2 separate regions of the Homo sapiens genome follow, and region 2 is reported to be linked to region 1. The links are microRNA targets in miRTarBase. Many come from high-throughput screens and were not tested one by one. Region 1 holds a microRNA gene; the other region holds the end of a gene's coding sequence.

Evidence for each region. The annotated mature microRNA hsa-miR-4753-3p reads UUCUCUUUCUUUAGCCUUGUGU and lies in region 1 at 1,097-1,118, opposite strand. An mRNA with a match to its seed (bases 2 to 7 or 8) in the 3' UTR can be bound and repressed. Matches are read on the target gene's strand: a 7mer-m8 pairs with bases 2 to 8, a 7mer-A1 pairs with bases 2 to 7 and ends in A, and an 8mer does both.
Region 2: the mRNA of FZD2 is a reported target of hsa-miR-4753-3p. Seed matches in the 3' UTR shown: 8mer at 3,552-3,559.

The regions. Positions count from the first base shown.
Region 1 is chr1:235,188,944-235,193,010 of GRCh38, forward strand. MIR4753 (microRNA 4753) reads right to left here and starts at 1,173; the gene lies at 1,091-1,173. All of the region lies in intron 19 of ARID4B (AT-rich interaction domain 4B), which reads right to left.
Region 2 is chr17:44,559,005-44,563,071 of GRCh38, reverse strand. It overlaps FZD2 (frizzled class receptor 2), which reads right to left. Exons shown (of 1, transcript NM_001466.4): 1 at 1,810-4,067. The coding sequence ends at 3,686. Among named protein-coding and RNA genes, the nearest start is that of FZD2, 3.6 kb to the right of the region's middle.

The DNA.
Region 1 (4,067 bases):
GAAAAAAGCAAATTAGAGGTAACTGAAAAAACCAAAAATTATAAAATCCTTTGAAAGATCAAAATCCGAAAGGTAAGGTATTGCATCCATCTATAAGAACAGAGTGGTACAAAACACACAGAAAACAGAGCTCTTGAAAAATTAAACTAGTTTAATTTAAAAATATTCATTGAAAGGCTGGGCGCAGTGGCTCACGCCTATAATCCCAGCACTGTGGGAGGCTGAGGCAGGTGGATCACAAGGTCAGGAGTTCAAGACCAGCCTGGCCAAGATGGTGAAACCCCATCTCTACTAAAAATACAAAAAATTAGCTGGGTGCGGTGGCAGGCGCCTGTAATACCAGCTACTCGGGAGGCTGAGGCAGGAGAATCGCTTGAACTTGGAGGGCAGAGATTGCAGTGAGCCGAGATCATGCCACTGCACTCCAGCCTAGGCAACAGAGTGAGACTCAGTCTCAAAAAAAAAAAAAAAAAAAAAAAAATCATTGAAAACTTAAACATTACAGCAAAAAGTCAACAAAAGGATTAAAAGACAAAGCAGATAAAATTTCAAAGAAATAAAAAGACAAAAAAATTAATAAAAAGCAAGAAATTAAAAGGTGAGCATATTAGAGTATATTACAGAAGGTATAATATCAAATAATGGCTGGCCAAAGAAAGATAACAGCCAAGTGCAGTGTCATGCACCTATACCCCAGCTACCCAACTACTTGGGAGGCTGAGGCAGGAGGACTGCTTGAGCCCAGAAGTGTGAGAACAGCCTGGGCTGAACATAGTGAAACACAGTCTCAATTAAAGAAAAAAAAAAATTTGGCAGGGCTGGGACAGTAGCTCATGCCTGTAATCCTAGCACTTTGGGAGGCTGAGACAGGAAAATCGCTTGAGCTCAGAAGTTTGAGACCAGCCTGGGCAATATAGTAACACCTCATCTCAAAAATAGTAACAATGAACAAAAATTAAAAAGGAGAGAACAGTAAAATGCAGGAGAGGAAATCATCAAGAAAATCATTCAAAAAAACTGCCTAGAACAGAAAGACAGAAGTTGCTAGAATGAAAGAGTCTAGCAAGTAGGCATCACAGGGGATGAAAATATATCTACACAAGGCTAAAGAAAGAGAACAGCCAAGTGTACTGTGGATATATCTGTTCTCTTCCTTTGGCCTTGTGTAGATATATTTCAGAGTTAAATTTCTGGATACGAAAAACAAAGATTCAAGATTCCTAGCAGGGCATGGTGGCTCATGCCAGTAATCCCAGCACTTTGGGAGGCTGAGGTGAGTGGATCACTTGAGGTCAGCAGTTCGAGACCAGCCTGGCCAAAATGGCAAAACCCCATCTCTACTAAAAATAGAAAAACTAGCCAGGCGTGGTGGCAGGCCCCTGCAATCCCACCTACTCGGGAGGCTGAGGCAGGAGAAACACTTGAACCCAGGAGGCAGAGGCTGCAGTAAGCCAAAATTGTGCCACTGCACTCCAGCTTGGCCAACAGAGTGAGATTCCATCTCAAAAAAAGAAAAGAAAAAAAAAAGATTCCAGAGACAGAAAAGCAAAAAATAAAGAATAAAACAAGTCACATACAAAGAATCAGGAATTGGAAGAGCTCTGGACTTCACAAAAGCAATACTGGAAGCAAAAAAACAATTCAACACTGCCAATAAAATACTGAAGGAAAAACTTCCAATCCAGCCAAACTATGAATAGAATAAAGATATTTGCAAAAATAAATACAGATATTTAAATGCAGCCAATCTCTAAAAATTCCATCTCATGCACTTGTTCTTTAGAAGCTACTAGAGAATGTGCTCCACCAAAATGAAAGTATGGGGGTGGGGAGGAACCTGAGATGCCAAAAACAAAGAAATCCAAGAACTACATTAAAGGAGATCCCTAGAATGGGATCTCCCTAGGAAAATAGCTGTGCAACAGATATAGAGGGAAACCAGTCCAGACTACAGCAGTGTTATTTCCAAAGAAAGTCATACTGCAGGCTATTATCATTAAGCTACCTGCTACCGCCTCTCTGTAGTCTTTGAATGCCTGAGTGACCCAGACTGGATTTTAAAATCTGTATTTATCTTGTTTCAACTATGTGTCAATGAAATTCCAGCTCTCCCTTCCATGTCTTATGTGCCACTACCTAGATCAGCTAATGACATCATTTTATCCAGCAGAAACATTCTGACCTACTTGTGAAAAATAGGGGTAAATCACCATAAGCCTAGAATGAGAATATATATAGAGTAGTCTGCTACTACGACTGAGCACACTCCCACATAACATCCACTGCGAATGTGTCACATATTCTTTTTATTTTATTTTTTTTAAGATGGAGTTTCGCTGTTGCTACCCAGGCTAGAGTGCAATGGTGTGATCTTGACTCACTGCAACCTCTGCCTCCTGGGTTCAAGCGATTCTCCTGCCTCAGCCTCCCAAGTAGCTGGGATTACAGGCACCCACCACCACACCCGGCAAAGTTTTTGTATTTTTTTTTTTAGTAGAGACAGGGTTTCACCATGTTGGCCAGGCTGGTCTCAAACTCCTGACCTCAGGTAATCTGCCCGCCTTGGCCTCCAAAAGTGCTGGGATTACAGGAGTGAGCTACTATGCCCAGCCAAATGTGTCAGATATTCTAACTGTAGTGGACCCCTAGGTTTATCAGAACTGGCTTATGACCTGTCCAACTGAATTCTCTAGAGGGGCTTTTGTAAACTCTCAGAGAAGCTAAATCTGAAATCAGAGTATGACTTAGAATCTCTATTCAGGTAACATTCTCAGAAAGCCTTCATCTGAGCCTTCTTATAAAACTAGGCTTATGCTTGTTACTCAATTTTTAAAAAACTAAAAAACAGGCTGGGTGCAGTGGCTCATGCCTATAATCCTAACACTTTGGAAGGCTGAGGCAGATGGATTGGATTGCTTGAGTCCAGGAGTTTGAGACAAGCCTGGGCAACAGGGTGAAACCCCATCTCTACAAAAACTACAAAAAATAGCCTGGCATGGTGGCACACACCTGTAGTTCCAGCTACTTAGGAGGCTGAGATGGAAAGGTCGCTTGAGCCCAGGAGGTCACTTGAGTCGTGATAGCACCACTGCACTCCAGCCTGGGTGACAGAGCGAGACTCTGCCTCAAAAACAAAAACAAAACAAAAAAACACCCTAAAAAAATGAAGTAAAATAAAAATTACTTAGGAATATAAATATAGATAATTCAATTCTGAAGAAAAGTAAAGCAAGGATTACACAAAAGTCCAGACTATAATTACTTCTGGGAGGAGACATACTACGAAGTAAAATAAAAATTACTTAGGAATATAAATATAGATAATTCAATTCTGAAGAAAAGTAAAGCAAGGATTACACAAAAGTCCAGACTATAATTACTTCTGGGAGGAGACATACTACATGTTTTAAGTAAATAGTATTTGATTGCTACTGTGGAGACATACTAGTATCCATATTATTACTGTTCTTTAAACTATACATGTATTTTCCATGCACTATTTGCATGTAGGATACATGGGAAAATTTTTTAAAAATCAATTTAAAAATATTGCCCTAATTAGTACAGTGGTGAGTAAATAAAAATATAGTACAGCATTTGGTTTATAAAATAATGAGTTAATATAAACACACATCTACAATAAGAAACAAAAACTAGCTTCTATTAACATTCAAAATAAGTAAAAATGAAACCTCTTTTAAGTTATGAGAAATGATAAGATATTTTTATGGAGATCCATTCTTTTATCTCATAGATATGTCCCCTTCCCTGCCAGTCAGATTTAATAAATCTCTGCTCCAATCCTCATTGCTTTTATTACCTATACTTCATTTTGCCTTAAATACTAAGCAATAATCCCATCATAAAAGAGGTCATGTCAGGCCAGGCGCGGTGGCTCACGCCTGTAATCCCAGCACTTTGGGAGGCCAAGGTGGGCGGATCATAAGGTCAGGAGATCCAGACCATGGTGAAACCCCATCTGTACTAAAAATACAGAAAATTAGCCAGGCGCAGTGGCGGGCGCCTGTAGTCCCAGCTACTCAGGAAGCTGAGACAGGAGAACAGTG
Region 2 (4,067 bases), not on the chromosome of region 1:
AGATCCATTTAAGGTAAGAAGAGTGATTCTAGAGGAGGAGGGACCCTGGTACAGTGAGTAGCAAGACTGCAGAAGGGAGGGCTCGCCCGGCTCAGACCCCATGGCAGGCACCCCCGGGACAGCATCTCCCCACCCTCCTGAAGAGATTTTGGAACAAAAAGCAGTTCCCCATCCCACTGGGCTGAACCTAATCTTAATTCTTTGGGGATGTTCAGAAGAATTTTGTCTTGAGAAACTTTAGTGGCCTTTTTCTAGAGCTAGCTCTTCAAAAAATCTTAAAGGGCAAAAAGTTTGGAACTAACGTTAAAGTCTTCTGGAGGGAAGTCTGGGCTGGGAGGAGGGAAAGCCTGATCAATAAGAGGGGGGAGTCTGGAGGAGAAATGCCTGGGACCTTGAAACCCCAGACCATTGCCCTGGGGGAGGGCAGAAGAGCAGGCAGAAAGCAGCGTGGGCCTGAGACCTGCCCCAGGCCCAGGTGCCACAGGTGAGTGTATTTCCTTCTTGGCCCTGACCCTCCAGCAAACACAAAGCCTCGCTCTTCCAGAGGGAGGGACCAGCCCACTTACAACATGGAAACCCTTTTCTGCTCAAAGGACGACCTAGAAATCTCCAAAAGCAGATCTCTAAGCTCCTGTTTTTAACTGGGTTTTCTGAACAAGGGAGCTGAGGTGCCCTCTCCCGTGAGGCAGTGAGTTCAGGTGGTTTACCTCTGAGTCTTCCTCCAGGGTGCTTTCTCCTCTTTACCCCAAATTCCCCAAACTGTGGTCTAAAGCTTCCCTTCCTCTAAGAGTGTTTCATTTAAGAAACAGGACAAGGGTGTGGAGAGGAGGGTTCCCCCACAACAATTTTCAGTAGGGTAATTCAGCCCTTGGCTACTCCCCCTGAAGAAGGGGAAGGGTATCTCTAAGATCTGTTCTTTCCAAAAGATGGAACTGTCTTATTATCTGTCTTCCTCCTCAGTCATATAATCTATTTTGTCAGTGTCTCAGGCTCTCTTCCTTTATGTTGGCAGGAGACTTTGAGGAGGGGGTTGCTCAGTGCGAGGGTCCAGGGACAAATGTACCCAAAGCACACAGAGCCAAGATCTTGGGTGGCTTATAGGTGGGAGAGGCTCTCCCCAATCTTCAACAGAGACCAGCTCCTCTTCCCACTGAGCTCAATACCAGGTACTGGAAAATCCCACCTGATTCTCTGGCTTTTCCCATTATTACAAGGAGAGGCACTCACAATTTGTTTGTAATTTTACTCTTTCCTGCAGCCTTTGCGGGGTCCCTTTAGAATCCTGCAACAAATGGAGCCGGGGGCGGTGACACCTCCTCCCGCCTGCTTCTTTGATAATTGAGGGAACCTCATGTTGAGATCTCACACTTGTCATCATTTGATAAAAAGCTAGGTTTAACTGGCCACTGACACAGATGATTTGGGGGGAAATTATATATTTTTGGGAGGGGGCGCTGCTGAAATCCACAGGCTTCATACAATTCCAAACAAAGCCCCACATATCACTTCAATTACCACCAAACATTTCCAGTTCCCCTCCCCCAACATAAACTAACACAAGCAAACACTTCGAAGTAGGGGTTCTAACTTAACTTTCTCCCTTGTCCGGAAGACAGCCAACAAAGGGTGGTAAGGCACCATTTCTCCCATCACCATTTAGCTAAGAAAGCAAGGTCCAGGGCTGGGAGCACTCTTCTCTGCCCCACCCCCAGCCAAGTAGGTAAGGGAGAGAGGGGAGGAGGAGGTGTGGTTTGGTTAAACTAATAAAATGTTACAACCCTGTTAAATACAATTAAAAGGATAGATCTCTCAAAGATAATTAAATGCACTTTATTATTATGATTATTAGCTTTTAATTTACACTGTTAAGAAATGGAAGATGGCGAAAACTGAGTTATGTGGCATACTTGTATTCAAACTAATCCTTTGGAATTAAAATTCTAAAATATTCCAAATAGTTGAGGGAAATAATATGTGTTGGAAACTGGAGTTCTCACACCAGCAAAGATACTTTTAGACATCACTTCTCAGGAAGTTAACTTAAGAGAAGTCTTGACAGGCCAGGCACTGTGGCTCACTCCTGTAATCCCAGCACTTTAGGAGGCCGAGGCAGGCAGATAACGAGGTCAGGAGTTCGAGACCAGCCTGGCCAATATGGTGAAACCCTGTGTCTACTAAAAATACAAAAATTAGCAAGGAGTGGTGGCGTGCGCCTGTAGTCCCAGCTACTTGGGAGGCTGAGGCAGGAGAAACGCTGCAGTGGAGGTTGCAGTGAGCCAAGATCGCACCACTGCACTCCAGCCTGGGCGACAGAGCAAGACTCCGTCTCAAAAAAAGAAAAGTCTTGACTTTATTTGTAGGGGCTCAGGGGAAGATAAGAAACATCTGCTTTAAACATCCTATCAATCTTGTGATATAGAATGTAATGTAAACACTCAACCCACCCCCACAGCCACAAAGGGCCTATCCAGAGACTTCTTCTAAAGCAAAGATACCACCTTTTTTTTTTTTTTCATTTTTTTCTGGACAAATTTTAAATAAACCAGTCTTTTTCTCAAAGGAAAACTAAAAAGCCCACCAGCCCATCAGTCCCCTCCCTCCAACCCACCCGTCTTTATCACTTTTTGAAAAAAATAAGCCCCAAACAACAACAAAAACCCACACAAACCAACCCAGAAACTGCTAACCTGAACGCCAGAGATTTTTGGCTGCGGGAGTGAATAGACTGCAGGGAAAGAAGGGAAGAGATGCTAGGAGGTCTCAAACTCCCCAGATTTGCAAACAAGTGCTCAAAGGCGAATGCTTCCCCTAGACATGAAGGGAGGCAGGATCAGTACTCCTGGTGGGGTGTATGTTGGTGGGGGCTGTTTCAAAACACACTTCAAAAAGCATTTTTGGGCCACTGGAAGCACTTGGTGCAGCGAATTGAAAAGAAGAGAAGCCAGACAGGAGAAAGATCTTCCAGCCTGCAGGGGAATGGGCCAGGGGGTGGAAGCCATTCCTCACCGGATCTCTGCCCTCTCCCCACCAGCACACCCCGACCCCGATTTTTTTTTCCACGTCTTCATCTCTGTTGGGACTTTTCCAAGAGTGAGTGAAGAAGACAGGACAAATGAGTAGGGAAAGAAAAGGGGGAAGGAAACAAAACGAATCCAAGTCCTGTTCAAAAATATCCAACGGCTTCCACAGGCCCAGCGTCAGAGAGGAGGCTCACAAATTTGGCTTTTATATTAGTTGAATGGAACAAACTCCTAACGACTCAAAGCCAACAAAAACAGCGCTCAGGCTGGGTGCCTCTCCCATCAGGCCCAGCCCTGCCATATCACCAAAAAACTCCAAAAGTGGGGCGGGTTTTGAAGGGCACTTAAGAAAGAGAACCCTCCCCCCAACTACACTCCCCAACACACACACACCTCATTCTTCAGTCCTGGCGCCCACACCCCTGTTTTTTTTTCTCCTTTTTTCTTTTAAATAGAAAATATATATAATTAAATTTACAAAGACTATTTACAGTTTTAATTACAAACCTTGTGGGGGTGTTGGGCAGAGAGTTCTCTTTTAAAAAGCAACCTAAAAGTGAAATGGTTTCGATCGTTTTTTATTTAAAAAAATAAAATACGGAGTCTGTAGGGGCCCCACCCCGGGCGGAGGAAAGCGCCGCGCGGTTCCGGCCTGGGGGCGTCCCTCACACGGTGGTCTCACCGTGTCGGCTGTTGGTGAGGCGAGTGTAGAACTTCCTCCACGAGTGCAGCGTCTTGCCCGACCAGATCCAGAAGCCCGACGTGATGCCCACGATGAGCGTCATGAGGTATTTGATCATGTAGACCGTGAAGTCGGGCGACATGCGCGGCGTGTAGTGCGCCGGGCACGGGATGGCCAGGCTCTTGCAGTGCTGGCTCACCCACGAGCGCTCCCAGTGCTCGCGGAAGGCCTGCTCGTAGAAGTAGCAAGCGATGACGATGGTGGCGGGCACTGTGTAGAGCACGGAGAAGACGCCGATGCGCACCATGAGCCGCTCCAGCTTTTCGGTCTTGGTGCCGTCGTGCTTCATGATGGTGCGGATGCGG